Homo sapiens: one gene and its partner. The protein of the gene in region 1 interacts with the protein of each later gene in a biochemical or structural test. Each region holds a gene or a part of one and is shown on either strand. Other genes may lie near its edges.

Evidence for each region.
Region 2: the proteins of POLD3 (region 1) and SPRTN form a complex in vitro, tested with the Homo sapiens proteins (one study listed by BioGRID).

What each region holds. Positions count from the first base shown.
Region 1 is NC_000011.10:74,584,452-74,601,436, reverse strand, and holds the start of POLD3 (DNA polymerase delta subunit 3), read right to left. Parts: upstream 8,856-16,985; 5' UTR 8,779-8,855; coding exon 8,719-8,778; exon of another isoform or gene 8,233-8,718; coding exon of another isoform or gene 8,227-8,232; intron 7,377-8,226; coding exon 7,321-7,376; intron 1-7,320. UniProt on the Homo sapiens protein: Accessory component of both the DNA polymerase delta complex and the DNA polymerase zeta complex.
Region 2 is NC_000001.11:231,342,309-231,358,681, forward strand, and holds the end of SPRTN (DNA-dependent metalloprotease SPRTN), read left to right. Parts: intron 1-5,488; coding exon 5,489-5,617; intron 5,618-8,995; coding exon 8,996-9,263; coding exon of another isoform or gene 9,264-9,298; exon of another isoform or gene 9,299-10,301; coding exon 10,302-11,053; 3' UTR 11,054-12,715; downstream 12,716-16,373. UniProt on the Homo sapiens protein: DNA-dependent metalloendopeptidase that mediates the proteolytic cleavage of covalent DNA-protein cross-links (DPCs) during DNA synthesis, thereby playing a key role in maintaining genomic integrity.

The DNA of each region.
Region 1 (16,985 bases):
TGCCTTCTAACTATTTATTTTACATATGACGCATCCCCTCTAGACTGTTAACACCTTGAGTACAAAAAGGTGCCCTAGTCAGGATTTTTGCTGATTCCTCCTCTTTGCCCTCTAATGTTTCTTTCCATTACAACAATTGTGTTAGAAGGATAAATGAGCTAACAGATCCACAAACATTTTGGTTTATTGATGCTAGTTTGGACCATGCTAAAGGAAGACATGATAGGCAGGTACCATGCCCAAAATGCTTGCAAGCTTGCTGGCCAAATGCACTATCTTTTATCCACAACTAATAGTCCTGCCCATATCATCAGTCATTGTCCTCTATGCACTTGTCTCCCCAAATTGACCCCAGTTCTTCTCTCTTATATTAACAGAAAATGCAAAGCAAACTCTTATTTTAAAAAACAATTCTTGTGGCTGGGTGCGGTGGCTCACACCTGTAATCCCAGCACTTTGGGAGGCCAAGGCAGGCAGATCACCTGAGGTTGAGAGTTTGAGACCAGCCTAACCAACATAGAGAAACCTCGTCTCTATTAAAAATACAAAATTAGCCGGGCACATGGTGGCGCATGCCCGTAATCCCAGTTACTCGGGAGGCTGAAGCAGGAGAATCGCTTGAACCTGGGAGACAGAGGTTGCAGTGAGCTGGGATCGTGCCATCACACTCCAGCCTGGACAACAAGAGCAAAATCCTATCTCAAAAAAAAAAAAAAAAAAAAAAAAGGAAAGAATTCCTGCCTACTTTTTGAGTCTTTAAAACATGTTTTATCTAATTTAAGCCAAACTTTTCTGTTTTTTTGGAGATAGAGTATCGCTCTGTCGCCAGGCTGGAGTGCAGTGGCGCGATCTCAGCTCACTGCCATGTCTGCCTCCTAGGTTCAAGTGATTTTCCTGCCTCAGCCTCCCAAGTAGCTGGGACTACAGGCACACGCTGGCTAATTTTTTGTATTTTAGTATTTTTGTATTTCAGTAGCGCCAGGTGTGGTGGCTCACGCCTGTAATCCCAGCTCTCAGGGAGGCAGAAGCAGGAGGATAGCTTGAGCCTGGTCTCAAACTCCTGAGCTCAGGCAATCTGCCCTCCTCGGCCTCCCAAAGTGCTAGGATTACAGGCATTAGTCACCGCGCCCAGCCTAAGCCAAATATTTTTTAATAAACAAAATATAAAATATTCTTAAATAAGAATGACAACAGGCTGGGCACAGTGGCTCATGCCTGTAATCCCAGCATGTTAGGAGGCCGAGGCAGGCGGATCACGAGGTCAGGAGTTCAAGACCAGCTGGCCAGCATGGTGAAACCCCATCTCTACTAAACATACAAGAAGTTAGCCAGGCGTGGTGGCATGTGCCTGTAGTCCCAGCTACTCGGGAGGCTGAGGCAGGAGAATTGCTTGAATTCTAAAGGCGGAGGTTGCAGTGAGCCGAGATTGCACCATTGTACTCCAGCCTGGGCAACAGAGCTGTCTCAAAAAAAAAAAAAATAATAATAATAACAACATATATGACTTCTTACAAGATACACTTCCTACACATGATTAATTATAGCTTCCCATTTTAATTCATTAATCTTCCCTCCTGATCAGTTCCACCCATAATGTTCCCCAGGATGAGTACAGTGTATTGCCCATACCGCTTTCTCTAACCCAACTTAATTATTTCACAGCATTTTCACAGTCTGAAATTATCTTGTTTAAATCAACCAGGGGAGGGACCCTGTCTGTCAGGTTTACTGTTGTATGACATAGCCTGAAATAATGCTAAAAAAAAACAGTATGAGGCCAGGCACGGTGGCTCAAGCCTGTACTCCCAGCACTTTGGGAGGCCGAGGTGGGCAGATTGCGAGGTCAGGGGTTCAAGACCAGCCTGGCCAAGATCGTGAAACCCTGTCTCTACTAAAAATACAAAAATTAGCCAGGCGTGGTGGCAGGTGCTGTAATCCCCACTATTCAGGAGGCTGAAGCAGGAGAATCGTTTGAACCTGGAAGGTGGAGGTTGCAGTGAGCTGAGTTCCGCCACTGCACTCCGGCCTAGGCAACAGAGCGAGACTCCGTCAAAAAAAAAAAAAAAAATTACTTGAGAGAAATGTTTGTGAAAATACTATAGTGAGGCCGAGCATGGTGGCTCATGCCTATAATCTCAGCACTTTGGGAGGCTGAGGCAGGAGGACTGCTTGAGTCCAGACGTTCAAGACCAGCCTGGTCAACACAGCAAGATCCCAACTCTACGAAATAAAAAAATCAGCTAGCATGGTGGCATGTACCTGTGGTCCCAGCTACTCTCAGGAGACTGAGGTGGGAGTATCCCTTAAGCCTAGGAGGTCATGGCTAAAGGAAGCCATGTTTGAACTACTGCACTCCAGCCTGGGTGATACAGTGAGACTCTATCTCAAAACAAACATAAACCATAGTGCTTGGTATTCATTCAGTATGTATTGGCATTCATTATGTGCCTGACACTGAAGACAGAATAATTGTGGCATGTTATATTTTCCAAAGATGGCTGAGACAGCATCTTCCATTCCATATGCTCTTCTACATTCTCTCATTGAGAAGTAGAGCCCACTTCTTGAATCTGGTATGACCAGTTATTCACTGCTTGACTTCTGAGGCTAGTCAGAAAAGGCAATTGGCTCTACATTGTGCTGGAACACAAGCTTTTGGAGCCCTGAGCTTCTATGTAAGAAGTCCGACTACCTGGAGACACCAGGCTGTGAGAAAGCCCAGGCCATACAGATAGACCACATGCAAGCACTCTAGTCCACTGCCCCAGCTAAAGGCCCAACAGATGGCCAGAATCAACAGCCAGACATGTGCATAAAGATGCCTAGAGATGACCAGGTTCCAGTTATTGAGACTTTCCAGCGGGGATGCCAGACATCATGGAACAGACATAAGCCATTCCCACTGTGCCCTATCCAAATTCCAAAGCAAAAGAATCTATGCGCATAATAAAATGATGTTTCCAGGCACTACATTTTGGGGTGATTTCTGACACAGCAATAGTAATCAGAACAGTGATGAACCTGACAAGTTTCCTGCCTTCATAGAGTTTATATTCTAGTGGGGAAAGACATATAATTAGCAAGAAAATGCCAAGACAATAATATGAATTATAAAATGCTGGGATAACCGTATACCCATGTGCAAAAAAATGATGCTGGACCCTTTCCTTACACCATACACAAAAAATCAACTCCAAGTGATTCCTAGAAGATATAGTCAATATTTATACATTTCAGTGATTCATTTAAAAATTAGCTTGAACTAACACCTAATCTGAAAGCTTTAGTATAGTCTTACTGTAGGAACTAAAGCATTTTTTTCTTTTTCTTTCTTTCCTCCCTTTTTTCTCTCTCCTCTCTTTCTCTTTTAGAGATAGGTTCTTGCTCTGTCACCCAGGTGTGATCATAGCTCACTGCAGCCTTGAACTCCCGGGCTCAGACAATTCTCCTGCCTCAGCCTTCTGAGTAGCTAAGACTGCAGGTGCATGCCACCACACCAGGCTCATGTTTTAAAAAAACTTTTTATAAAGATGTGGGTCTCACTATGTTGCCCAGGCTTGTCTTGAACTCCTGGGCTCAAGCAATCCTCCTACCTCAGCCTCCTCAAGTGTTGGGACTAATACAACTGAGCCACCACAGCCACCCGACTGAAGCATTTCTAATGTTAACAAGTACATGGCCAGGTGCAGTGGCTTATGCCTGCAATCCCAGCACTTTGGAGGACAAGGCAGGAGGATGGCTTCAGCCTGGGAGTTCGAGACCAGCCTGCACAACACAGCAAAACCCCGTCTCTACAAAAAATACAAAAAGTAACCAAGTGTGGTGGCATGCGCCTGTAGTTCCAGCTAGTCGGGAGGCTGAGGAGGGAGAATCACTTGAGCCTGGGAGGCTGAAGTTGCAGTGAGCCAAAATTGCGCCACTGCATTTCCATCTGGGCAACAGGGTGAAACCCTGTCTCAAAACAATAATAATAATGATGCTAACAAGCACACGATCTGTAGAAAACTTAAACATAGTGATAACCATGATTTTTTTAAACTCTAAGTGGATTACAGAATTAAATATAAGTGCAAAAACTAAAAAATCTTAGAAAAAAGCACAGGAGTAAATCTTCATAACCCTGGGTTAGGCAAAGCCTTCTTAGATATTATGTCAGAAGCACAAGCAACACATCAAAAAGAAAACACAACAAGGGTATGGAGAAAACAGAATGCTTATACATTGTTGGTGGGAATGTAAATTAATACAGCCATTATGTAAAACGGTATGGAGGTTCCTCAAAATATCAAAAATAGAGCTACTGTATGATCCAGCAGTCCCACTACGGATATACATCCAAAGGAAATGAAATCAGTATGTCAGAGATATTTGCACTCACATGTTTATTGCAGCACTATTTACAACAGCCAAGATATGGAATCAATAAATGTCCATTAATGGATAAAGGAAATATAGTGTATATACACAATGGAATACTATTCAGCCATAAAAATGAATAAAATCCTATCATTTGCAACAAAATGGATGAACCTGGAAGAGACTATGTTAACTGAAATAAGCCAGACACAGACAAATACTACATGATCTCACTCATTTGTGGAATCTGTAAAAGGTGATCTCACGGAAGTGGAAAGCAGAATTTTCTTTCCATAGGCTGAAGTGGTTAGGGGAGGGGGAATGGGGAGATGTGGGTCTAAAGGATACATAATTACAGTTAGACAGGAATAAGTTCAAGAGCTCTACTGTATAGCATGGTGACTACAGTTAGTGATGATATATTCTTGAAAAATGAAAAGATGGTAGACATTAAATGTTTTCACCACCAAAATAACTGTGTGATGTAATACATTTATTAGCTAGATTTAACTACTCCACAGTGTATATATACTTCAAAACATAATGTTGTACACAATAAATACATACAACTTTATTTCTCAATTTAAAAAATCTTGGCTTGGCACGATGGCTCACATCTGTAATCCCAGCACTTTAGAAGGCCGAGGCGGGCAGATCACTTGAGGTCAGGAGTTCGAGACCAGCCTGGCCAGCATGGTGAAACCCCAACTCTACTAAAAATACAATAAAATTAGCCGGGTATGGTGGCACATGCCTGTAGTCCCAGCTACCTCGGAGGTTGAGGCAGTAGAATAGCTTGAACCAGGGAGGCGGAGGTTGCAGTGAGCCGAGATCACGCCGTTGGACTCCAGCCTGGGCGACAGAGCAAGGCTTCTGCCTCAAAAAAAAAAAAAAGAAAAAAAAAAATCTTCTTAGGCCGGGCACAGTGGCTTGTATCTGTAATCCCAGCATTTTGGGAGGCCAAGGTGGGAGGATCACTTGAGGTCAGGAGTTTGAGACCAGCCTGGGCAACATAGCAAGATCTCATCTCTACTAAAAAAAAAAAAAAAATAAGATTAAAAAAAATTTAATCATTTTAAAATTTAAACTTAAAAAAGCATAAGCAACAAAAGGAAAAATAAATAAATTGGACTTCATCAGCAATAAAAACTTCCATGGGCCAGGCATGGTGGCTTATGTCTGTAATCCCAGCACTTTGGGAGGCCAAGGCAGGGGCTTGAGCCTGGGAATTCAAGACCAGCCTGGGACCAGCATGGGAAACATGGCGGGACTCCATCTCTACAAAAAATTTAAAAATTAGCTGAGTGTGGTGGCACGCACCTGTAGTCCCGGCTACTCGGGAGGCTGAGGTGGGAAAATCACCTGAGCCCAGGGAAGTCAAGGCTGCAGTGGGCTGAGATCACACCACTGCACTCCAGCTTGGGCAACAGAGTGACATCCTGTCTCAAACAACAACAACAACAAAAAATGTCTGTGCTTCAAAGCACACCATCAAGAAAGTACAAAGACAATCCACAGAATGGGAGAAAATTTTTGCAAATAATTTTTCAATCAGGGTCTTGTATTCAGAATATATAAAGAACTCTTAAAACTCAACAACAACCAAAAATACCCAATGACAAAAATGGGCATAATTTTGAATATCTATTTCTCCAAAGATATGGCCAAGCAGCATATGAAAAGATATTCAGCAACATTAGTCATTAGGAAAATGCCAATCAACATAATTTATGAGATACCACTTCACATCCACTAGGATGGTTAAAATAAGACATAATAAAAAGTTTTTGCCAGGTGTGGTGATGTACACCTGTAGAGCTAGTTGGTAGGCTGAGGCGGGAGGATCCTTGAGTTCAAATCCAGCCTGGGCAACATAGTGAAACCCCATCTCAAAAAAAAAAAAAAAAAAAAAAAAGAGTTCATCCATGAGAAGTCTGAGGGAAAAAACAGTGTTAGTGTTAACCAGAATGTGGAGAAACTGAAATACTCATATACTGTTAGGACTGTAAGAAGCGCAGCCATTTTGAAAAATAGTTTGTCAGTTCCTCAAAATGTTAAATACAGAATTATCTCATGACCCAGCAATTCCAATCCTAGTTTGGCTGTGTCCCCACCCAAATCTCAACTTGAATTGTAATAATCCCCACATGTCAAAGACGGACCAGGTGGAGATAACTGAATTATGGGGGCAGTTCCCCCATGCTCTTCTCATGATAGTGAGTTCTCACGAAATCTGACGGTTTTACAAGGGGCTTCCCCCTTCGCTCGACACTCATTCTCTCTCCTGCCACCCTGTGAAGAGATGCCTTCCGCCAAGTCTCCTGAGGCCTCCCCAGCCATGCGGAACTGTGAGTCAATTAAACCTCGTCTTTATAAATTCAATCTCAGGTGTGTCTTCATAGCAGCATGAGAATGGACTAACACAAATACCCAAGATAACTGAAAATATATGTTCATATAAACACTTATAGATGAATGTTTTATACATGAATGTTCATAACAGCATCATTCATAGCAGTCAAAATATGGAAATAACCCAAATGTCCATTAATGATGAATAAACAAAACTTGTTGTATCCATATTACAGACTGAATCATGTCTCCAAAAAGGTAATGTTAAAGCCCTAACCCCCAATACCTTAAAATGTGACCTTATTTAGAAATAGAATTATAGCACATGTAATTAGTTAAGACAAGGTCATATTGGAGTAGGGTGGATTCGTAATTCAGTATGACTGGTGTTCATATAAGATGGACGTGCAAAGATACAGATATACAGGGAGAATGCCATGACAATGAAGGCAGAGATTGGAATTACGCAGCTACAAGCCAAGAAATACCAATGATTGCCAGCAAACCAAATTAGCTCTAATCTATGTAGGCTATCTGTAGAGTTAAAAGCAAAGCATAACAAAACAAAAAAAAATTCCAATATGATTAAAATTGGTAGTAAATTGGACTTACTGTTTGGCCTGGTTAACATGAACCCCTAGTGTATAGCTCAGCCATTTGTATGTCACCTGTAACAAGAAAAAATTTTTCAAATGTTTTATTAGATGACTCCAGAGTGCACATCAGTCCCGAAGGTCTGTTGCTAAAGATTCCTATTCTTAGATGATTATGCCTTACAAATTACAATAAATGCCACTGCAGTTTTCCCAAGAACTATCTATCTGGGTAGGCAGGACCTATTTATCTTAAAAATGCTAAGAAGTTTGTTTCATGAACTAATGAAAAGTAATCTAAAAAGACAAGCTGAACATACCTAACAGAAAAAACTCTCATTTTCCTCACATTCCTTGTTTTACTCAGGCCCTTTCCTCATGATGTTTTTTTTGGGGGCCACCAGCCAAAGCCATCCTAAAACTCATTCAGAAGCTAGATGACTTTGAAGTGTGATGTCTCAGAAACTTCTAAAGAAAGTTGCACCCATGCAAACATTAAAGGGCACAGGTGGTGCAGGGGTCAGGAAACGAAAAAAGTGGGTAAATATTTTTATAAGAGATTAGATTGGGAACTACCAGCATCAAGCCTTCATCCCTCCTAGACCCAGGATGCCTGCACTCTCTTCTCTCAAAGTCTCTTCCAATTCCAAATGTCAAGCTTCCAATAGTTAGAAGACTTGCACAGGTTAGGCAAAGGCAGTGTGATGTAGAAGAAAGCATTAGTAAGAGGACAGACCTAGGTTGAAAAACTGCCTATCCCTTACCAAACGCAAATAAACAAGTTATTTGGCCCCTCAGCTTCAATTTCCTCATCTCGGGATACCACCACCGACCTGGGATGGGGTGCGGGGAGGTCACTGTAAAGATTAAAGTGCCTTGGCACACAGCAGGCACTCAATCATCACGGTTTGCAAAGTGCACTCACATCCATCAATTCGCTCGATCTTTTCCTCACCCGTGTGAAGCGGATCAAACCTCTATCAATGCTTAAATTTCCAGGAAGAGGAAACAGTATCTGGAGGTTACGCAACTTGTAACTTAACACAGTTAAGACACGATTTCCTCAACTGTAAACTTAAAACTTTAAACGCCAACCACCTTAAAAGAAAGGTGTAGGGACGCCTTAGAACTCTCAGCCAACGGCCCTCCCTCCGCGCCCGGTCTCCGCGGCTCCAGCCCCAGGCTCTGTTCCCAGCACGCCCACCCAAGGGACGCGGACTTCCGTGTGTGCTGGAGGACCTTCCCGACGAGTCCTCGCTCGCTCTGGGGCACAGAGCTCGCCCAGGTCCCCTCGTGGGGACCTGTCTCCCCTGGTCCCCACGAAGCCACAAGCAGACAGAGGGTCAAGGCTCCCGCCGCCCTAGCCGGGCCCAGGACCCCGGTCGCACGCCCGCGTTCCCCAGTAGTAGCTGCTCACGATCTTGTTTTGGTCCGTGACGAACTCGTCTATATTTTCCAGATAAAGCTGGTCCGCCATGGTGCGGCAGCGCTGGGACCCGCCTCTAACCCCTCTCTCAATCACAGCCACAGCTCCCGCCGGCGGGAAACGTCTTTGCTCCCTCCCAGGTCCCGGGTCGTTTCCCCGGCAACGGAGGCGACGCACTACGGCGGCCCTCGAAGGGTCAAACTAGTCAGGGAGACGGCGCAGACGGAGGTAGGCAGAGCTAGTAGAAAACACCGAAGTGCGGGGCCTCCTGGCTGGTTTTTTCCTATACCTACGTACCTATGATAAAGTTTAATTTATAAATTAGGCACAGTAAGAGATTAACAAAAATAACTAACGATAAAATAGAACAATTATTATTATACTGTAATAAACATTAGTGAATATGGTCTCTCAACAGATGTCATTGGGTATAATATTTCCCTACCGAGGTTGGCTGCGCGTGATGAAACCCGGGAAAGCCAGGATAAAGGGGAGACTATTGAAAACAAGTAATTTTAGTAGTGCTGCCAACTGGGGAAAAGTACTGCCTGTTATAATCCCTCAGAGTTGAGAAATTAGGGAAGGTTTTTCCAGAGGGGTTGAGGAGAGGCTGAGTGTTTCGGATAGAAGCAGGAGAATTTGCTGGAAAAGAGTTCATTATCTCTGGATTGTTAGGAGAAGAGGCGGATGAGAGAGACTTGGGAGAAACCAAATCGTTGTGCCTAGGAGACTGTGAAGAGGCGCTTGAGCTGTGTTCTCAGGAAAACTTGGAGAAAAGTTATCAGGTTGGGGAATTTCAACTCAAATTTCTCCTAGTATCACCCCCGCAAAAATCTTTAATAATTGACTTCAGCATAAGCCGGTGCAGTTCAGTATCGCAGGTGTAGTGCGTAAGAGAGTGGGCTCTAGAGTCAGACTTACTGGGTTTGAATCCTGGTTTTGCTGTTTGTTGTGTAAACTTAGGTAATTCTTTAGCCACTAGGAGCCTATTTCCTTATCTATAAAATGGGAATAATAACAGTACCTACTTCAAAGGCTTGTCGCGACATGCATTCATTCAAAGCATAGCAAAATCCTGAGAAAGGCCAGATACTATTCTGAGTGTTGAGGTGCTGGGGCTGCAGCTATGAGCAATAATAAACCGAGCCTGTTCACATGTAACTTACATTCTGAGATTTTTAAGTGAAAGATAGTGGTGGTTTAAAATAGGGTAGCAGACCGGGCGCGGTGGCTAACGCCTGTAATCCCAGCACTTTGGGAGGCCTAGGGGGATGAATCACCTGAGGTCAGGAGTTCGAGGCCTGCCAGGCCCACATGGTGAAACCCTGTCTCTACTAAAAATATAAAAATTAGCCGGGCGTGGTGGCACGTGCCTATAGTCCCAGTTACTCCCAGGGCTGAGGCATGAGAATGTCTTGAATCCAGGAGGTGGAGGTTGCAGTGAGCCGAGATCATGCCACTGCACTTCAGCTTGGGAAACAGAGAGAGACTCCGTCTAAAAATAAAATAAAATGGCTCGGCGCAGTGGCTCACACCTGTAATCCCACACTTTGGGAGGCCGAGGCAGGCAGATCACCTGAGGTCAGGAGTTCGAGACCAGCCTGGCAAACATGGCGAAACCCCGTCTCTACTAAAAATACAAAAATTAACCAGGTGTGGTGGTACACGCCTGTAATCCCAGCTACTCGGGAGGCTGAGGCAGCAGAATCACTTGAACCTGGGAGACCGAGGTTGCGGTGAGCTGAGATGGTGCCACTGCACTCCAGCCTGGGAAACAGAGTGAGACCCCCCTCAAAATAAATAAATAAAATAAAATAGGGTAGCAGTGCCAGGCACAGTAGCTCACACCTATAATCCCAGCACTTTGGGAGGCCAAGGCAAGTGGATCACTTGAGCCCCAGGAGTTCGAGACCAGCCTGAGCAACATACTGAAACTCCGTCCCTACTAAAAAAAAAAAAAAAAAAAGCCATGGTGGCACGAGCCTGTGGTCTGTGGTCTGTGGTCCCAGTTCTGAAGTGGGAGGATGGATTGAGCCCAGGAGGTAGAGGTTGCAGTGAGCACTTGATCATGCCACTGCATACAGCCTGGGTGACAGAGTGAGACCCTGTCTCAAAAAATAATAATTTTTTTTTTTTTTGAGACAGAGTTTTGCTCTTGTTCCCCAGGTTGGAGTGCAATGGCGCGATCTCGGCTCACTGTAACCTCTGCCTCCCGGGTTCAAGTGATTCTCCTGCCTCTGCCTCCCAAGTTGCTGGGATTACTGGCATGCGCCACCACACCCGGCTAATTTTGTTGTAGTTCTAGTAGAGAGGGGGTTTCGCCATGTTGGCCAGGCTGGTCTCGAACTCCTGACCTCAGGTGATCCACCTGCCTTGGCCTCCCAAAGTGCTGGGATTACAGGCGTAAGCCACAACGCCAAACCAATACATTTTTTAAAATAGAGTAGTGGTAGTGGAAATTGAGAGAACTGAGTGACTTGAGTTTTGTTTTAGAGTCGGCAAAACCTGCTGATGAATTACACGAGTGGAGTGTGGAAAAAACAGGAATCAAGGAAAATACCTAGATATGGAACATAAATCTTTAGGTAAATGGTGATGCCCTTGACTGAGACGTGAAAGACTGGAAGCAGATGAGAAAATCAAATAATTCTATTTGGCCAGTTACAAATGAGATAATATACATAAAACTCTCATGCAGTACCTGCACACAATAAAATCTATGATCGTTGACTATTACGTTATTATATACCAGACCTACTATACCAGGTACTTTAAGAGCAATATTTCATTTAGTCCTCATAGCAATGCTGCAAATGTATTATATTGTCCATATTTTATTTTATTATTTATTTATTTATTTTGAGACGGAGTTTTGCTCCTGTTGCCCAGGCTGGAGTGCAATGGCGCAATCTCTGCTCACTGCAACCTCTGCCTCCCGGGTTCAAGCGATTCTCCTGCCTCAGCTTCTCGAGTAGCTGGGATTACAGGCATGCACCACCATGCCCAGCTAATTTTGTATTTTTAGTAGAGACAGGGTTTCTCCATGTTGGTCAGGCTGGCCTCGAACTCCCGACCTCAGGCAATCCGCCCACCTCAGCCTCCCAAAGTGCTGGGATTATAGGTGTGAGCCACCGTGCCCAGCCTGTTTATTTATTTTGTTTTATTTTTTGAGATGGAGTCTTGATCTGTCGCCCAGGGTGGAGTGCAGTGGCATGATCTCCACTCACTGCAACCTCTGCCTCCCAGGTTCATGCGATTCTCATGCCTCCACCTCCTGAGTAGCTGGGATCACAGGTATGCACCACCACACCCAACTGTATTTTTAGTAGAGAGGGGGTTTCGCCTTGTTGGTCAGGCTGGTCTTAAATTTCTGACCTCAAGTGATCCGCCCACTTCGGCCTCCCAAACTGCTGGGATTACAGGTGTGACCCACTGTGCCTGGCCATTGTCCATATTTTAGAGACTGGATTGTTGCGGCTCAGAGAGAAATAGATTTTTCCAGGATTATTAGGTGGTTGCTGTGGGATCAGAACTCAGGCCTCTTGTCAGTGCTCCACAGGAGTGGGAAGTAAGTCAAGATAATTAGCTAGGGAAGAGTCTTGATACTTATCCCTATGCCAAATGGAGCAGATGACAATGAGGTGGCTACATTGTCTGGGCTATATACCCTGGGGTTGGTAGTCTGGCACCAGGAAAATTTAGGACACTAACACACACGAAGAGTTTAGGAGCGGAGGTTTAATAGGCAGAAGAGAAAGAGAAACAGTTCTCTTTATATATAGAGAGAGGGGTCTCCTAGTGATCATGGTGGCAGATGCGCTGGACTTTATAGTCCAGCTTGAGGAGGCGGTGTCTGATTTATGTAGGGCTCACAGATTGTTTCGATCAGGTGTGACATTTACATAGCCCAGGGGTGAAGGCTGGTATCCCCACCCTGATCTTATGATGCAAATGAACTCTCCTTGGCTGGCACCATCTTGTCTGCTCCTTACTGTACATGTGGCTGGCAGAGAAGGGATGATGGAGTCGCCATCTTGAACATGTCTAGTCCCTAGTTCCTGCCCACATTCACCCGTGCAAGCTCCCAGCTTGCTTGTCTATGTCTGAAGCTCAACTTTACAGGCTGGTCTTTGTTAGAAAATGATTTGGGGCTGCTTTTCATGAAAAAGAAAAGCCTTACCATGGACTTCTATACCCTTACTATCTGCCTAAGTGATTTCTTCTTAACTCCTATATCAACCACACTGTTTAGAGTGCCCAGCCCAACCCAATGGACCTGCCAATATTAGGGTTGAATGACTTAGCTGGATTAGTGGTTACCCTTGGGAGGGTAGAAACTGGAAGGGAGTATGAGGAGGCTTTTGAGATGAAGGTAATATTCTTGATCTTGGTGCTGGTTGCATGGTGTGTTGAGTTTGTGAAAATGATTTGAGGTATATACTTTTGATATGTATAGTTTTCTATATGGATGTTTGCGTGAATCAAAAGTTTAAGGAAATTATTTGAGGAATCTTAACTACAGTGTCAAGTCTTTTCAAACTAGGAAAATAGAAAATAGGTAGAGGTATTAGAAAGAATGGGTTTAATCTTAACCTTGGACAATAGAAAGGAGATTCTGGGAAGAAGGGATAATGGGCAAAAGTGGTGCAAAGCAAGGCAGTAATTGGATTATCAAATCAAGATAAATAATGAAAGGTATCTCCAAGTCTGGGTTGGGATAATGGGACTAGAAAGGAATGACTACAGCTCTGCACAGGATTGGGTAGGCTGGGGGTTGGGTTAAGGGCAGGAGAGCTGGAGGGGGAAGAGAAGAGATAGCTTTTCTGTTTCTGTGTCTAAGGCCTATCCAGTTTGATTTTTCCTTTTCCAATTTGGAGCGTAATTGAATGAAAAGCATATGGGCTTTGGAAACAATGTTTCTTGTGAGAAGCAAGAAAGCAAACAAACAAACAAACAAACATCTGGGCCTGAATTCCAGCTTTACCACTTACTAGCAGTGTGGCTTTAGGCAAATCATTTAACTTCTTTTATCATCTTAAAAGAAGAGAGATAATAATATCCAGCGATGTACAGATAAATGTGTAATAACCAACTTGCTAAATAAAAAAAGCCCTGATTTGAAGTGGTTGCACTTCTGTGGTATAAATACTCCACATAGCAGAATTCAAGCTACAGATATTGATGCCATAGAATGCAGAGTTAGGAAGAGATGCACAGTATCACACCATTATTTCCATCATACAGACACAATAAACATAAATAACCTCAAGAGCATAGATAGGCCAGGCACAGTGACTCACATCTGTAATCTCAGTACTTTGGGAGGCAAAGACAGGAGCATCCCTTGATCCCAGGAGTTCGAGTCCAGCTTAGGAAACATAGTGAGACCTGTCTCTCTATAAAAGAAAAACACAAATGAAAAAGAGCATAGATAGTAGTAAAACACTTAGGAAGTGATGAAATTTGAATATTGTCTTGTGTTTAATATAATTTGATTGTACATTTATATAATTTAATTTTCAGTAATGGCTCTGTTTAACTGACTTGCAAACTTTCTGAAAATTTAACATTCAGCTCTCATAAGCAAGTGCATCAACCAGCTCTCGTGCATCACTGTAAATAATTTATCTACCTTGCATGATTGAGAGGGTTGAAAGTAACATGTTCTGTGCCTTGGAGATAATTAAGTGCTCCATAAATGGCAACTATTATTATATAACAAACACTTATATACCACTGACTACATGACAGGCTCCATTCCAAGTGCTTTACAAATATTAACCCATCTAATCTCTGTAACAACCCTAGAAAGTAAAGCATGTTATTATTCCCTTTATTCAGAAAAGTAAACTCTGTCACAGAGAGGTTAAATAACTTGCCCAAGGTCACAAAGCAACACAGCTAGAAGTATAACCCAGGCAATCTGGCTACAGCATCCATGATCTTAAACACTGTGTTTTGCCATCTCATTATTAGTTTACAACTGTACATATAAAACCAATAATAAGTACAGTGAACTCTAACACATTTTATTGCAGAATTTTGGGATTCCTGTGCACATCAGTCAAGTGAGAATTACTTTCAGTAGAAACCAAGTAACAAATTGGATATGTTGAGTATCACATCATATGACAACATAGAGTCCAGGCAAATAAAAGTTAATCTTGAAAGTTTTTGAGTCAGGTGTTGGAGGTAAGGGAAGTTTGAGGGGAGTATAGACCTTTGATTAGATTTAGAAGGGAACTACAGCTAGCAAATGCCAGTGAAGAAACCTAGGACTGTGTCCAGGAGATTAGTATTTTATCTAGATAATGCCTGAAGGCTTCATTTTAGGGTCAAAAGTAAACCAGAAAAGAGAACTCCTCTGTACTTTTACTGCCATGAATCCCAGATGAAGAGTCTTTTAGGTTGTATACATTGCTTGGATGATAATAACTATCATTTATTGAGCACATACCGTGTTTTGAGTACCTTGCCTAGAGTGGCTTATTTAATCCTCAGCCAATCCTGTTAGATTCAATTATCCCTTCACCAAAAAAGGACCCAAATTTGAGATCAATTTTATGTTGTTAATGGGAAGAGTTAGTAGAAAACAATTCCATGTAAGTTCTAAGACAAGGTTTGCTTAAACAAATAACTAAGTAGCACTTTACAACTAGCCTCATCCTAATATAATAATAATAATGACAACACCACCACCAGTGTCTAATAGCTTCTTAATAAATGTTTACTGATTTAGTTTTTTTGTTTGTTTGTTTGGTTGGTTGGTGTTTTGAGACAGAGTCTCACTCTCTTGCCCAGGCTGGAGTGCAGTGGCATGATCTTGGCTAGCTGCAACCTCCGCCTCCTGGGCTCAGGCAGTCCTCCTGCCTCGGCCTCCTGAGTAGCTGGGATTACAGGCACCTGCCACCATGCCTGGCTAATTTTTATATTTTTAGTAGAGATGGGGTTTCACCATGTTGTCCAGGCTGGTCTTGAACTCCTGACCTCAGGTGATCCATCTGCCTCGGCCTCCAAAGTGCTGGGATTACAGGCGTGAGCCACGGCGCCTGTCCTGACTTACGTGTAATTACACTAAAAGCAGTGAGATTTAAGGGGAAAAATATAGGACTGAGAAAAAAGGAGACCTCAGAGTGTTCACTATGAATTACCATTCACTGCATATGTAGGCACGATGCTAGGCCTTTTACTTGAATATTTTCATTTAATCTTTGGAACGACCAATAAAGTAAGTATTATTACTTACCTACTATTATCTGTATTTTATAGATGTCACTTAGCTTAAATTATTATCCCTATTGTACAGATGAAGAAACTGGAGCTCAGAGAAATTAAGTAACTTATCCCAAACCACATAGGTAGTAAGTGGTAAAGATGTGTTTCCAGCCCAGGTATGCCCAAAGCCCATGTTCTCAACACCGTGGTTATCTTTACACGATAGCATTTGGCTGATTTTTGTTCTCTTCTTTATATCTATTTTTTCTTATATGTGTTTGGAAATTTTAACAAGAGTCCATATCATTTTTATTTATTTATTTTTTTGAGATGGAGTTTCACTCTTGTTGCCCAGGCTGGAATGCAATGGCACGATCTCGGCTTACCGCAACCTCCGCCTCCCGGGTTCAAGTGATTCTCCTGCCTCAGCCTCCTGAGTAGCTGGGATTACAGGCATGTGCCACTACACCCAGCTAATTTTGTATTTTTAGTAGAGACAGGGTTTCTCCATGTTGGTCAGGCTGGTCTCGAACTCCCGACCTCAGGCAATCCGCCCACCTCAGCCTCCCAAAGTGCTGGGATTATAGGCGTGAGCCATCGCGCCTGGCCAAGAGTCTGTATCATTTTTATAATCAGAAAAGAATGAACATATTTTCATTTTGAAAAAAATGGAGCATTTAGCAATGTCAAATTAACTCTTTTTATTCCAGTTCTCTGTAATGTTTCCCTATTTAAAATGTAAAAGGCGGCTGAGCGAGGTGGCTCATGCCTATAATCCCAGCACTTTGGGAGGCCGAGGTGGGCGGATCGCCTGAGGTCGGGAGTTTGAGACCAGCCTGACCAACATGGAGAAACCCTGTCTCTACTAAAAATACAAAAATTAGCTGGGTGTGGTGGCAGGCGCCTATAATCCCAGCTACTCGGGAAGCTGAGGCAGGAGAATCGCTTGAACCCGGGAGGCGGAGGCTGCAGTGAGCCTAAATCCTGCCATTGCACTCCCCTCTGGGCAACAGAGTAAGACTCCATTTCAAAAAAAATAAAAT
Region 2 (16,373 bases), on another chromosome or scaffold:
TATCAAGTGAGCATTTCCTGTTGGCAGAAAGTTACAAAATGACATTTTCGTCAATGACAGGCCCCATATATAACAGTGGTCCCATAAGATTATAAGACCATATTTTTATTTATTTATTTATTTTTATTTTTTGTTTTTTGAGATGGAGTTTTGCTCTTGTTGCCCAGGCTGGAGTGCAATGATATGATCTCGGCTCACTGCAGCCTCCGCCTCCCTGGTTCAAGGGATCCTCCTACCTCAGCCTCCCAAGTAGCTGCGATTAAAGGTGTGCGCCACCACGCCTGGCTGATTTTTGTATTTTTAGTAGAGGCGGGGTTTCACCATGTTGGCTGGTCTCAAACTCCTGACCCCAGGTGATCCTTCTGCCTCAGCCTCCCAAAGTGAATGGGATTACAGGTATGAGCCACCATGCCCGGCCAGGACTATATTTATTTATTTTTTTTTTGAGATGGAGTCTCGCTCTGTTGCCCAGGCTGGAGTACAGTGGCGCATCTCCACTCACTGCAAGCTCCGCCTCCCGGGTTCAGGCCATTCTCCTGCGTCAGCCTCCCACATAGCTGGGACTACAGGCACCCGCCACCATGCCAGGCCAATTTTTTGTATTTTTTTTACTAGAGACGGGGTTTCATCATGTTAGCCAGGATGGTCTCAATCTCCTGACCTCGTGATCCGCCCGACTCAGCCTCCCAAAGTGCTGGGATTACAGGCGTGAGCCACCACACCTGGCCAAGACTATATTTTTATTGTACCTTTTTTCTTCTTTATATTTAGTTGCACAAATACTTACCATTATGTTGCACTTGCCTACAGCATTCAGTACAGTAACATCCTGTGCAGGTTCGTTGCCTAGGAGCGGCAGGCTATACTCTATAGCCTAGGTATATATACTCTATAGCCTAGGTATATACACTCTATAGCCTAGGTATATATACTCTATAGCCTAGGTATATATACCCTATAGCCTAGGTATATATACTCTATAGCCTAGGTATATATACTCTATAGCCTAGGTGTGTGTATATATATATATATATTACATAGGCTATACCATTTAGGTTTGTGTAAGTACACTCTTAAGATGTTTGCACAATGACAAAATTGCCTAACAATGGATTTTTCAGAACATATCCCTGCCAAGTGAGGCACAACTGTAGTTACCTAAATCATAGAGAAGGGGGTTCAGAAAAGGAACAGACTTTATCTGGTTGAGGAGGTCAAGAAAAGCTTTATAACTGTACATTTTGTTACTACCATCACCACTCCTGCTGCTCACTATTGAGCACCTATTGTGTGTCAGACTTTGGACTAAACGTCGTCTTTACCACAGCCATGCAAAATGAGGATATCCCATTTTAGGGATGAGGAGCCACTTGGAGCCTGTCCCAGGTCTCATGCTGTGATTGTGGGTTTAGGTTCCAGTTTCCCTGACTCTAAGGCTCTTGTTCTGTCCCCTTTACCATTCAACTCATCACTCCTGCGATTAAAACATGGAGAGGTGAGCATTAAAGGACGAATTGTACTTTTGACAAGCAGAGATAGGACAGGAGGCTACTCTTGGCAGAAAGCATGGGAATAATGTGAACAAAAGTGAGTTCAGACAACTGGGGGCATATTTAGGACTAGAGGTAGTTCATTTTAACCCGATAGAACAGTCATGGAAAACAGAGGTATTTTGGGACTGTGTTGTGTATAGATCCTTGAATTAAGACTAAATATGGAAAATGATAGATATTTAAAAAGTTCAGTACCATTTTCAAGATGTTTTTTAATGTTTAATTAAATTGAACCAAAAATCAGGAACCTAAATTTGTTTCTCCTTTATGAGAATAGATCTTTATCATTGCTCTAATTTAGAACATTGAGAAACTTTTGCAGTACCTTTCTTGAATTTGAGTCTTCTTCGTTGAGCGGCATTTACTTGAAAAATAAAGTTCTGGCTGGGTACAGTGGCTCATGCACGTAATCAGATAGATGGATTGCTTGAGCCCAGGAGTTGACCTGTCTGGGTAAGATGGTGAGACCTTGTCTCTACAAAAAATTGAAAAAAAATTAGCCAGGTGTGGTGACATGCGCCTGTAATCCCAGCTGCTCAGGAGGATGAGATAGAGGGATCCCTTGATGCCAGGAATTTGAGGCTGCAGTGAAATATAATCATGCCACTGCACTCCAGTCTGGGTGAAAAAGTGAGACCCCATCTCTGAGAAATAATAAGATAAATAAATAAAGTTCCTTTTAAGAGATACAGTTGATAATTTTTAGAGGGATATATGAATGACCAAGTTAAAATGTTTGATTCTCTCATTTTTCTGTTCAGCATAATTTTATAAGACTAAAATTCATTAATGACAGTCTAGTTCTTCTGATGGAAATTGTTTTTTAAAAAAATTATGGAGGATCATGAAAAAGGTATGTCTTTGAAGATCTTTCTGATTTTTGCTTAAAAAAATTATTTATATTTTTTAGAGCAAAAACCCCAGCAATCTTAAATGCTTTTGTTAATTTTGCACAGAAACTTGTGCATCTTTGGTGTGGAATGAGCAGTAGGTTTTAGTGTTTGTTTCAAGTTTTCATGATTTCTGAATCAAAACCCAAAAGCTGTAGAAAGCTATACACAAAGATGTCTTGTTCAGTGTCCTCCTCTATCTTGAACTCCTTACTTGCTGTAGGAGCTGTTAGTTTCTTTTCATTTTTCTGTTTTGCAAATATTTCTATTCATTTTTATTCCTCCTCCCCACCATACAAAATTTTTCTTACACAAAATACTATGTACATTCTTCTGTACTTTGTCTTTTTCTTTTTCTTTTCTTTTCTTTTCTTTCTTTCTTTCTTTGTTTCTTTCTTTTTTTTTTGTTGCCCAGGCTGGAGTGCAATGGCATGATCTCGGCTCACTGCAACCTCTGCCTCCCAGGTTCAGGTGATTCTCCTGCCTCTGCCTCAGCCTCCCGAGTAGCTGGGATTACAGGCGCCCGCCACCATGCCTGGCTAATTTTTGTGTGTTTAGTAGAGACGGGGTTTTACCATGTGGGCCAGGCTGGTCTTGAACTCCTGACCTCAGGTGATCCACCTGCCTCGGCCTCCCAAAGTGCGGGGATTACAGGCATGAGCCACTGTGCCCAGCCCCCTGTCTTTTTCATTAATACGCTCTATAGCTTTCTCCAAACCATTTCATGTAGATCCTTCTCATTCTTTTTTGTGGCTGCATAGAATTCCATTATATGGATGTATAAAACACTGGAGTTATTTCTAATCTTTTGCTGTTATAAGCAGTGTCACAGTGAATACACCTTGTGCATATGACCTTGCATGCTAGTCTAGGTATTGCTCTCTCAGAAGACAAATGCATTTGTAATTTTGTTAGATGCTACCAAATTTTCCATAGGAGAATTGCACTCCCACCAGCAGTATATAGGAATGTTTATTTTCCCTTAGCTTTACTAATGGTGTCAAACTTTAGGAGTTTTACCAATCTTGATAAGCAATAAATAACATCCTAGTGTAGTGTTGGGTTTTTGTGGGGGTTTTTTGTTTTTTGAGACAGGGTCTTGCTGGGTTGTCCAGGCTGGAGGTAATCATAGCTCACTGCAACCTTGAATTCATGGCCTCAAGTGATCCTCCCATCTCCGCCTCCTGAGTAGCTAGGACTACAGATGCACAAGCTAATTGTTTTATTTTTATTTTTATTTTTTTGTAGAGACAAGGTCTCACTATGTTGACCAGGCTGGTTTTGAACTCCTGGCCTCGAGCAATCCTCCCACCTCAGCCTCCCAAAGTGCTGGGATTACAGACATGAGCCACCACGCCTGACCATCCTAGTGTAGTATTAATTCGCATTTCTCTTTTTATAAATAAAGTTGGGCATTTTTTCTTTTCTTTTCTTTTTTTTTTTTTTTTTTTTTTTTGAGATGGAGTCTTGGTCTGTCATCAGGCTGGAGTGCAGTGGTGCATTCTCGGCTCACTGCAACCTCTGCCTCCCAGGTTCAAGCAATTCCCCTGCCTCAGCCTCCTGAGTATACTGCTCGGACTACAGGCGGGCGCAACTATGCCCAGCCAAAATTTTTTTTTTTTTTTTTTGTATTTTAGTAGAGACAGGGTTTCACCATGTTGAGCAGGATGGTCTCAATGTCCTGACCTCGTGATCCGGAAGTTGGGCGTTTTTTCATTTGTTTGTGGGTCATTTATACTTCTTCTGTGAACTCCATGGTCTTTGCCCATTTTGAAATTGGGTTGTCATTCCCTGTTGACATTAGGAGCTCCTTGTATATTAGGAATAGCCTGTGATAAGAGTTATACATATATTTTTCTGAGTTTGTCTTTTTACTTGGTGTTTTTTTCCTATAGAATTTTAAAGTTTTGTCTGGGTGCAGTGGCTGACGCCTATAATCCCAGCACTTTGGGAGGCTGAGGCGGGCAGATTGCTTGAGGTCAGGAGTTTAAGACCATCCTTGCCAATATGGCCAAACCCCATCTCTACTAAAATACAAAAATTAGCCAGGCATGGTGGTGCACACCTGTAGTGCCAGCTACTCAGGAGGCTGAGGCACGAGAATCACTTGGACCGAGGAGGCAGAGCTTGCAGTGAGGAGAGATTGAGCCACTGCACTCCAGCCTGGGCAACAGAGTAAGACCCTGTCTCAAAAAAAAAAGAATTTTAAAGTTTTTATGTAGTTGAATTCATTGATTTTTCTGGATTTTGATATATAGTCAAAAAGGTCTTCCTAGAACAGGGAGTTCTTAACCTGTGATTTTCAGAGCTTTAGATGTTACACAAATTTGAGTACCCCTTCTCTGAAATGCCTGGGACTAGAAGTGTCTTGGATTTCAGATTTATTTGGATTTTGGAATATTTGTGTTATTCTTACAGGTGGAGCATCCCAAATCTGAAAATCCGCAATGCTCCAATGAGCATTTCCTTTTGAGTGTCATGTCATTGCTCAAGAGTTTCTGATTTTGGAGCATTTTGGATTTTCAGAGTTGGGATGCTCAACTCATATGCAATATTTTGTGAATGAGTGCTTATATAATTTTTATAGAATGAGGTGGGTTTTTTGTTGTTGTTGTTTTGTTTTTGTGAGACAGTGTCTCATTCTGTCCCCCAGGCTGGAGTGCAGTGGCACAATCACAGCTCACTGCAGCGTCAACCTCCCCAGGCTCAGAGGATCCTCCCACCTCAGCCTCCTGAGTGTAGCTGGGATTACAGGCATGCACCACCACACCTGGCTAATTTTTGTATTTTTTTGTAGAGACAGGGTTTCGCCATGTTGCCCAGGTTGGTCTCCAACCCCTGGGCTCAAGTGACCCTCCCACCTTTGCCTCCCAAAGTGTTGGGATTACAGGTGTGAGCCACTGCACCCGGCCTAGAATGAGTTTTATCAGTTCTGAAGGAAGCCTGTGATACAGAAAAGGTTAGACACCAGATAGAATAAGAAAATTTATATTTTCCAAAGTGTCATACAGACTCTAAAACTAATTTGAATATTTTATGTTCCAGACCCTCCTGCATGAAATGATACATGCCTATTTATTTGTCACTAATAACGACAAAGACCGAGAAGGGCATGGTCCAGAATTTTGTAAACATATGCATCGCATCAACAGCCTGACTGGAGCCAATATAACGGTATAGAAAGCCATATCTATTTATGATGTTTAGTAGTTGTTTATTCAATAACTCCTGAGATTTAATTAAAAGTAGAGAACTAGGTAGAAACAAGTATCTTTGAGGATTTTCCACAGCGAACGAGAGGCCTAGAGAAGCAAATTGGCTTGTCTGGGACTACATGGTGGAATGGCAGCAGAGCCAGTGATATCCCTGAGGCCTCTGACCTCTTCTGAGTCAACATTTTACACACAGGTAATTCAGGCCTGCAGTACGTCACTTCTGGAATCATCATGATCTCTTAACTTTGTTTCCTTATTATTGTCTTTTTTAGTCCATCCTGTATCCTGCTACCATTGCAGATGTCATTCCCTCATCAGAATTCTTCTTTGATTCATATCTCTGTATAGCATTGTAGGAGATAGCAAAGCCTCAGGTTCAAAAAGCTGGAGGCGTCAGGCTGCTTGGATTCAAATCCTGGCTCCACCAATTATTAACTTTCCTATGCCTCATTTTATACCCATGGCAAATGAGAGTAGTAACAATACCTATCTGTTGGATCCTTGTGAGGAGAAAGGATTAAAGGAGAAAGCACATCAAAACATTTTAGCCCAATCTGACACTAATTAAATATTAGTTTTATTGTATTCATTTTATTAAATAACCTTGTTCCTTTTTTACTGCCTCCAACTCTGCTGCCTGTGTCCTGTCTCTTTAACTGCACTTTTGACCTCCCTGCCTTTCCTCAGGTGTAGCTTCCCTGAGGCGTGCCACTGCTCTGTTTTGTGTCCGAATGCTTTTCATCGTTCCAGTGGCATCTCATTTCTCCCTCTTTTGAATCCTCAGCAGATATTTAAGCTATTACAATTTTTTATGCTACTTTCATACTTTTGAACGCAGGGTAGGTCTTGCCCATCTTTATAGTACATCTGTATAAGGTGTATAATGTACTGAATTGAATATTAATAGGATAGATTAAATTCTTTCTTATGTTTGGGTATTTCCTTCCTTTAAAAGGCAACAAAATCCACTGTGATAGAAAATGAACAGTGCTCAACCGCCATGTTTTGTTTATTTATTTATTTAAGATAGGGTCTTGCTCTGTTGCCCAGGCTGGATGCAGTGGTGCATTCATAGCCCACTGCAGATTCAACCTCCTGGGCTTAAGTGATCCTCCCACCTCAGCCTCCTGAGTAGCTGGGGCTACAGATGTGTGCCACCATGTCAAGCTAATTTAAAAAAAAATTTTTTTTTTTAGAGACAGGGTCTCACCATGTTGCCCAGGCTGGTCTTGAACTCATGGGTTCAAGTGATCCTCCCATCTCAGCCTCCCAAAGTGGTGGGATTATAGACATGAGCTACCATGCCTGGCCTCTCCATGTATTACTATTTTCTAGCTATCAGTTTTAATTTTCTAAAGACTTCATTTCATTATTAGACACAGTTACTTCAACATTAGGAAAGTGTCTTGCAGTTTTTAAAAAAATCAGACATAAAATCCGGGTTAGCAAGAGAATTATAGACTTGCTTGTATAAAATACATTAAGTTTCTTAACCAGAACTTATACTTTAAGCAAAGCCCTTGTATACGTCCCATTGTTCAGCTGGAAGAGTATCTGTTCTTTTATCTTAGATATCTGTGTGTTTTTATTTAGGAGAGGTTGTAAGGAGTGAACACTCCTTGCTTTTACAGGTTACATCCTGTTATAAGGAACTCTGCAGGGTATCTACATTGTAGAGTAATTTTATTTTAGTGACTACATTGTTAAAAGTCACATTCCCAAGCGTTAGGAGTTACAGGAATTGGAAGCAGAACAGATCCAGGCTGGGTGTGGTGGCTCACGCCTGTAATCCCAGCACTTTGGGAGGCCGAAGTGGGAGGGTAACTTGAGCCCAGGTGTTTGAGATCAGCCTGGGCAATTTAGTGAGACCTTGTTTCCACAAAAAAAATTCAAAAATTAGCTAATCGTGGTAGCTCACGCCTGTATTCGCGGCTACTCGAGAGGCAGAGGTGGAAGGATCACTTGAGCCTGGGAGGCGGAGGTTGCAGTGAGCCAGGTTCATGCCACCTCACTCCAGCCTGGGCAAACAGAGCAAGTCCATGTCACAGAACAAACAAACAAAACAGATCCATTTGTCTCTCTTTTTGGGTAATGAATTAAGAGTTCTGAACATAATAGAGTGCGTGGTTTCCCGTGCTTCTTTGCCTTAAAACCTATGTCCTTCAGTCCCTTCTGCATTTAATATAATGTGCATTCTTTGCATGCTTACCAAGTAGAAATTTTTTGCTTAGGATGGAGCGATAGTGAGTTTAAAACTATCTATAGAGTTATAGAAAGCTTAGCATTCTTTCCCACAAGGGGAATTTATTAGAAAGCTAAATGTCTTTGGTAAAACACCAAAATCTTACATACAGATGCTTCTCACTCTTACACAGAGAGTTCCACTGAGAAGGCAGAAGAATAAGGTGCCCATAGTCATTTAGGAGTCATTTCAAATGGTGCTCTATAGTCTTCAGTGCCACCATGCTGGGAGGGCTGACCCTCTTTTCAGTCAGGTCTTTTCCCTTACCTGTTTTCTGCTTGGGTTCCAAATAGGATTTTTGTCTAGAGGGTGAAAAAGAAGGCATCCTACTTAAGGCCTGAAAAGCACACTTCAGAGAATTTTATTTGACTCAATGAATGATGCTTTTCTGACTGAGCACCTTCTTGGTGCCAAAAGCACTATATTAGCCACTAGGGACACAAAAAATTAAAACATTCAGATCCTGGAGAACTTTTCAGTCTGGTAATAGAAATATTTATAAACAGATAAAATGGTACCTCATAAGGCTTATTACAGAGACATAAGCACAGAACTTGGAGAATGTGGAGAGTGAGCTTAGCAGAAGCTTCACTGGGTAAGATACTTGTGTTGTTAGCGTCAGTCAGGCATTTATAGGGAGTAATGTAGTCCTTTAGAACCCTTTGCTATTTTTACTTATAGGGAAAACTTCAATTTAGCAGTGGGAATGATTCTTATTTTAGTATGGTATTACATAAAATCTTATCTTTATCCTAATTTTTGATCATTTACAAATTTGATTTCTGAAACTTTTAGTGTTCATGAAGATTTTCTGTGGTTTTGTTTTTAAAAGATTTTTTTGTCCTCTAATCCCATGTGCATCTATCTTTACACAGTTTATGAAGTATTAACTGCTGCTGTTTCCCATTAAAATCAACTTTTGAACAGAAACTAAATATAGTTGCTTTCTCTCCTAAAATAGAACTTTTCAGAAAGCTCTGGGAAAGTTTCAAAAATTAAAAAAAAAAAAAAAAAAAAAAAAGACTGCTTATGTAAATTGTTTTCTTGCAGTTGTTAACTTGCTTATTGAATACTAAAAATTCTGTCTCCACTCAGGTATACCATACTTTTCACGATGAGGTGGATGAGTATCGGCGACACTGGTGGCGCTGCAATGGGCCGTGCCAGCACAGGCCACCGTATTACGGCTATGTCAAACGAGCTACTAACAGGGAACCCTCTGCTCATGACTATTGGTGGGCTGAGCACCAGAAAACCTGTGGAGGCACTTACATAAAAATCAAGGAACCAGAGAATTACTCAAAAAAAGGCAAAGGAAAGGCAAAACTAGGAAAGGAACCAGTATTGGCCGCAGAGAATAAAGGTACCTTCGTGTATATTCTTCTGATTTTTATGTGACCATAGCTATGATGTAAAGACAATACTGTCCTTCAGAGAACTGGTATTAAGATAAACTTAAGGATCGTTTCTGGTGTAGAAGTCTTCAAGTGTAGACTTAAGGAAAAAATCCCACTGTCCATGAAATGATGGTAGGAAAACAGACTTTGCTCTGTACAGAAGTAAGTAAAAGTAGGAATAGTTTCCATGGATATTTTTATTTTTATTAACTTTTTTCAGTTTCTTTTTATTCAAAGAAACAAAATTCAATCTCTGATAATATTTGAGGTAAAGTTCCTTTCCCTATCTTGACTCACTGAGTTATTAGGAAACAGAAGGCAAAAAGATTGTCAAAATAAAAACAATAATTCAAGTAACAATGCCCGGAATATACGTCCTAACTACACCCCTTCCTATCAGCTGGATTCTATCCAAGTGACTCTATTGATGTATGTATGTTCATTCAAAGAATGGGAAAAGGATATGACATATATTTGCCAGTACTTCATCTTCAAGATTTACCCTTTTCCTGTGAAGTTCAGAGTTACTGAAGATGCTTCTTCCCTTGGGAAGTTGTTGACCCAAGAACATAGGTTATATTTCCCAAATCTTTAATTATTGAGTGAAAGAGCTATAGATGAATTGATATGGAAAGACCGTATCTTCATTTTCGTGAGTAGAAGGAAAGATAAGAATGAGGCAGCAGATTTTCCCTCCTGGAATTACACATAAAGGACACTAAGCAATTTTCAAGGTAAATGTTGCCTTGTTGTTGGTCTTTGGCATGATAAGATTCTTTATTTAAATATGAGAGAATTTTTTTTTATCCTTTATATTCTCTCAATATCAGAACTCCTGAATTCTGAAGATTGCCCTCCTCCCATTAATAGGATTGTATGGATGTAAGATGGAATAAAATACTAGTTCTTCATTTTGAGAAAACTGTACATTAGTTTAATGTTTGTTACTGTATTTCTTTTGAGTTGAGGCACTTACATAACAATCTTCTTTGCTTTTTTGGCAGATAAACCCAACAGAGGTGAGGCCCAGCTAGTAATCCCTTTTAGTGGGAAAGGATATGTTCTAGGAGAAACAAGCAATTTACCTTCACCTGGGAAACTGATCACTTCACATGCCATTAATAAAACCCAAGATCTTTTAAATCAAAACCATTCAGCAAATGCTGTAAGACCTAATTCTAAAATCAAGGTGAAATTTGAACAGAATGGTTCAAGTAAAAATTCTCATCTGGTCTCCCCTGCTGTTAGTAACAGTCACCAAAATGTTCTAAGCAACTACTTTCCTAGAGTATCATTTGCCAACCAAAAGGCTTTCAGAGGTGTGAATGGATCTCCAAGGATAAGTGTAACAGTTGGCAACATCCCTAAAAACTCAGTCTCTTCTAGTTCTCAGAGAAGGGTTTCATCTTCTAAGATATCCCTAAGAAATTCTTCAAAAGTAACGGAATCAGCATCTGTGATGCCATCCCAGGATGTGAGTGGGTCTGAAGATACATTCCCAAATAAACGACCTAGGCTAGAAGATAAGACTGTTTTTGACAATTTTTTTATCAAGAAAGAGCAAATAAAAAGCAGTGGTAATGATCCAAAGTATAGTACAACCACAGCTCAGAATTCCAGCAGTTCATCCAGTCAGAGCAAAATGGTTAATTGCCCAGTTTGTCAGAATGAAGTTCTGGAGTCTCAGATTAATGAGCACTTGGACTGGTGCCTTGAAGGTGACAGCATCAAAGTCAAAAGCGAAGAAAGTCTTTGAAAAAGGTTTCAAAGTCTCAAGTACCACCTGTATTATCTCACTAATGTGCTATGTCAGCCAGTCAGGAAGTTCTGGTTAATACTAAGATTTGTAGGTTATAATCTAGTTCACATAACCAATAGAAAGTGTCCTATTTTATATATACGCATATAAGATTGTAATTTTAAGATGTTTTGTGTCTCAGGGTGCTACATTCACTCTTGCCTTAGGTATACTGTAACCCAGGTTCTGCCTGTCGTGTATAAGTTTTAGATACTTTTGTTCTTTCTTGCTCTTAAGGATTTTAAAAACCTGTTAATCTTTTTATTTGTATACTTTCCTAAAAATATTCATATGGGGAATCCTGTCAGGTGTTTGGTTATATTGACTATTTATTAATAGTATTAGAACTCATTCCCTGAACTGATGTAAATCTTCATAGTGTCAGACATACTGACCAAAACCACAATCTAGACTACAAAGTATATTGTTTTAGAGTACTCAAATTGTATTATTTATTAATTTTTTTGTTTGCAAAATCTTAACAGGAACTGTATTTTCTATATTTTAAAGAATTTTATTTGTCCCACTTTTACTAAACAGTGGCAGCAGATTTTAAGTTAAAGAATATGGAATATAGTAAAATAAGTAAATTTCTTTTGGAATATTTTTAGTAACAAATAGCCACTATAATTCTGTAGGCCAAATTTTATATTGAGTTTAGCTGTTTTCTCAAAATTTAGCAGAGTGGTTAAAATTCTGTGCTGATAAGTAACTGATACATATAACATAAACATAACAAAGTTGCCTAGTTGATGTAACAGTGGAAAGTTATCTGGAAATAGTATTTTGAACTTTAAGCCAAGTTTAAAACATTATAATAAAAGGAATACCATTTGTGCATTTTAAGTAATCTTTTTTAAAAAAAATATTTTCCATGTTATAGGGAAAGGACAAAGAGACTTTTATCAGTTTGCTTTTTGTCTTGTGGCTGTACATGCTGTTGGCATAGCCCTAACACAGTTGTTCACAAGTTTTCTTTTTTCTTGTTGCAATTTTCCTTCACTTTGTTGTAATACAGGTGCACAAATCTTAAGTGCACAGCTGGGTAAACTTTTACAGTGTTCACCTGTGTAACTACCACCCGGATCAAGTTAGAGAACACTTCCATTGCCACAGAAGGCTTCCTATAGGTGTCTGTTCCCAGTTGATACCCATGACCCTCACCACCTCCAGAGGTCCCCACTGTTTTCACCCCATCGTCGCAGATTATTTTTTAATTTTATAATGTAGTATCTTTGTTCCTATGTATAGCAGGAGTTCATTTTCATTGCTCTTGCATTTGTATGAATATACTAGAATTTATTCATCCATTCTAATGTTAATGGACATTTGAATTATTTCCAGTTTGGGGCTGTTAAGCATAATGCTGCTAAGAACATTCTTATCTTTTCTGTTGGGTATATATACAGGAATGGAATTGCTGAGTCACGGGGTATATTTCTGTTTAGCTTTAGTAAATTCTGCCAGTTTACACTCCTACCAGCAATGTATGAGAGTTTTAGTTGTTCACCATTCATAACACTGTTAGCAGCCCTTTTCGTTTTAGACTGGTTGGCTGTTCACAAATTTTGATATTCCTTAAAGCATTAAAACATTTTAATAAATACTTATAAATAGGTATTAAAATGTATATTATGTTCAATATATAGTTATATTTTCATAGAGGATCATTTCTCTAAATGAATGTAACAAATTATGTGTAATTAAATGCTTCCTGAGCCAAAACCACACAAGGTTCTGGGGCTGTGAAGTAGCTGAGATGGTCCATGTCCTCAAGGAGCTTTACAGCATAGTTGGGGAGTAAGACAAATGCACATTAATCTCCTTAGAGTTTGCTAAGTGCTATGACAAGGGTTTTTGCTGGGTGCTGTGGGTAAACTGTAGGAAGAAAAATTAGCTCTGCCCAGGACTTCGGGGGATGTTTCTTGGAGGAGACAACATCCAAAGTTGAATCATGTAGAGTGAGTCGAGTTAGCCTGGTTAAAGAAGGGTGGGGAAGAACCTTTCAAAGGGAAGAAGGAACACAAAGTCATGTTCCGAGGGAACTGAATGCTATTCCAAGTGAATAGAGTAAAATGTGAGGGGCAAAATGGCCAAAGGAGAGATGGCAGATAGGACAGATCTAGCTAAGTAGTACAAGTTTGAGGCCAGGGATCTCATGTTCCTCACTTTATGTCTGGTTTGTGTGATACCTGCTAATAAGCATCTCTTAATTAAGGTGGGGCTTGGAAAGGCTTATAAGCCAGTCGAGGACATGTTGAGAAGTGTTTCCAATGGATTTTTCTGGGGACAGCATAGATAAGAGGGGGAAGGGTAGTGGCAGGGAGGGAGAGGAAGAGACAATTTTTTGAGAAACAGGTAGTAAAGTCAGGAGTTGGTTTCAGGTTCTAGGGAATGATGGAAATAGTTGAGAAAATGGAACTCAATTTGAAATAAGCCTTACTACATCTGTTAAACACTTGAGAAAATTTGCACCCTAAAAATTCTGATATTCCCCCAAATATGTCATTCATAATAGAGACATAGTTTTGTTTCTGTTTAGATTTTCCCTTTTAAAGCCAACTTCCCAACTTAGAAGCAGAGCTGGTAATTCTGGCTCAATCCTTAAATGCTATCCCCCTGCTGTGGGGACATGGGGTCTAGATTCTGTTTTTATAAAACGGTGGGTTTTGGGTTTTTGTTTTGTTTTTTGAGATGGAATCTTGCTCTGTGGCCCAGGCTGGAGTGCAGTGGCACAATCTCGGCTCACTGCAACCTCCGCCTCCGGGGTTCAAGCAATTCTCCTGCCTCAGCCTCCCAAGTAGCTGGGATTAAAGGCGAGCGCCACCACACCTGGCTAATTTTTGTATTTTTAGTAGAGATGGGGGTTTCACCTTGTTGGCCAGACTGGTCTCAAACTCCTAACCTCAAGTGATCTGTCTGCCCTCGGTCTCCCAAAGTGCTGGGATTACAGGCGTGAGCCACCATGCCCTGCGAAAACAGTGTTTATTTTAAGGTCAGTGTTATATGTTACCTAGCCTTAATTTTTACTTTAGAAAATTGTGCTGGGCAGCCGGGCGTGGTGGCTTACGCCTGTAATCCCAGCACTTTGGGAGGCCGAGGTGGGCGGATCACGAGGTCAAGAGATCGAGACCATCCTGGCCAACGTGGTGAAACCCCGTCTCTACTAAAAATACAAAAAATTAGCCGGGCGTGGTGGCAAGTGCCTGTAATTCCAGCTACTCGGGAGGCTGAGACAGAAGAATCGCTTGAAGCTGGGTAGCGGAGGTTGCAGTGAGCCGAGATTGTGCCATTGCACTCCAGCCTGGGCAAAAAGAGCGAAACTGTGCCAAAAAAAAAAAAAAATTGCACTGGGCATGGTGGCTCACGCCTGTAATCCCAGTACTTTGGGAGGCTGAGGTGGGTGGATTACGTGAGATCGGAAGTTTGAGACCAGCCTGGCCAACATGGTGAAACCCCGTCTTTACTAAAAATACAAAAATTAGCCAGGTGTGGTGGCATGCACCTGTAATCCCAGTTACTCAGGAGGCTGAGGCAGGAGAATCGTTTGAACCCAGGAGGCAGAGGTTGCAGTGAGCTGAGACTGCACCACTGCACTCCAACCTGAGTGACAGAGTGAGACTCTGTCTCAAACAACAACAACAACAACAACAAAAAGCTGGGCATGGAGGCTCACGCCTGTAATCCCAGCACTTTGGGAGGCCGAGGCGGGCAGATCACGAGATCAAGAGATCGAGACCATCCTGGCCCACATGGTGAAACCCCATCTCTACTAAAAATAAAAAAATTAGCTACTCAGGAGGCTGAGGCAGGAGAATTGCTTGAACCCAGGAGGCGGAGGTTGCAGTGAGCCGAGATTATGCCATTGCACTCCAGCCTGGCGACAGAGCTAGACTCCGTCTCAAAAAAAAAAAAAAAAAAGAAAATTTTGTTTTGCTTTTTGTAGACTATGGATATGCATATGCATATCCTAACTGGGAATTCTAAAGTGGAAAGGAAAATACTATGACAAAACTTCATACTGTCCCATTGTCTGATAGCTCTGAGATCATACTTTTAAAGCTTACAGGACTTTAAAATACGAACGTCAAAGTGAAACAACTGATGTACCTGCAAAACTAGCACCTAGCTGGACCCTTTCTGGGTGCGTGCAGTGTCAGCTCTTTTTATGTTGTGTTTTAAGTTTTTTATCCTGGTATTGCATTAATCGTGATCCAATGGTTTCCTTTTATTCTTCGTCTCAATTTTTTTTTTGTCCTTAAGGCTACTGTGGACTTTTTAGCAATTTGTTGTAGTTGTTGACTATCGGCATATTCACCAACAGAAGTGAAACTCTTCATATGACAATTATAAATTAAAGTGACTAAGGAGTTGAAATTAGAACAGAATGCAATGTGCAGATTAGCTCTGGCTTTTTCCTAGTATCCCATTAGAATGTTAGAAGTTATAATGATTACATATTTCATCATCACATATCTTTCGAAATGAAGAGTAGAATCTTAAATGACTCTGGACTGTAGTACAGAAGCAAGGTGCCATTTGTTTTCTTCAGTACTGGTGCTAAATTTACCAAGATTTACCATCTTGCTTAGTGAACACTAGGTGGTGCTCTTGGTAAGCCAAACTTCTGGCTGAGCCAAGCCAAGTGGATAAAAGAAACTTGCGACAACTGGAACACTAATTACCAGTTGATTCATAGATAGGAAAGAACAAGTTATGATCTCAAGTTCTGTGAGGGGACACGGCAGGCCAAGAATGTGTGCTTGTTCAAACAAGGACTGATCTACAGAACACTTTAGTCTCCCTAAACCTGTTTTCAAGCATTTCACCTTTCACTCTAAACATGTAACATAGTAGTCTCCTGCAAGAAAGAAACTGGTACCCAGACAGGGCAAAACAAGATCATGCTCAACCGGCTATCTATCTTCTAGACAAGGCAAGACCTGTACTTTTGTACTGTTTCTTATAGTACTCTAAACTATGTCTTTTTGCCTCTACCTGAGAGGTCTGAAAGAGCCAACAGGCAGCTTTTGGATTCTTGGTGTTAAGTGAATGTTAGGGCTGGGTATTCTCATGTTCCATGGTTATACACCTTTGCAAAAAAAAACACCTGAACACTGACTCTTCTCTATACTTCTGAAGAATCAAAGTTATAGGTATATTTTCAAGCTAGAATACTCTTGAGACCTAAATCATTTCCAGGTTGTAAGCATTCCTGGTAAACTAAATATATGATAACCTGGATTTGCATGAAAACTGGGAGGGTATTTTTTTTTTT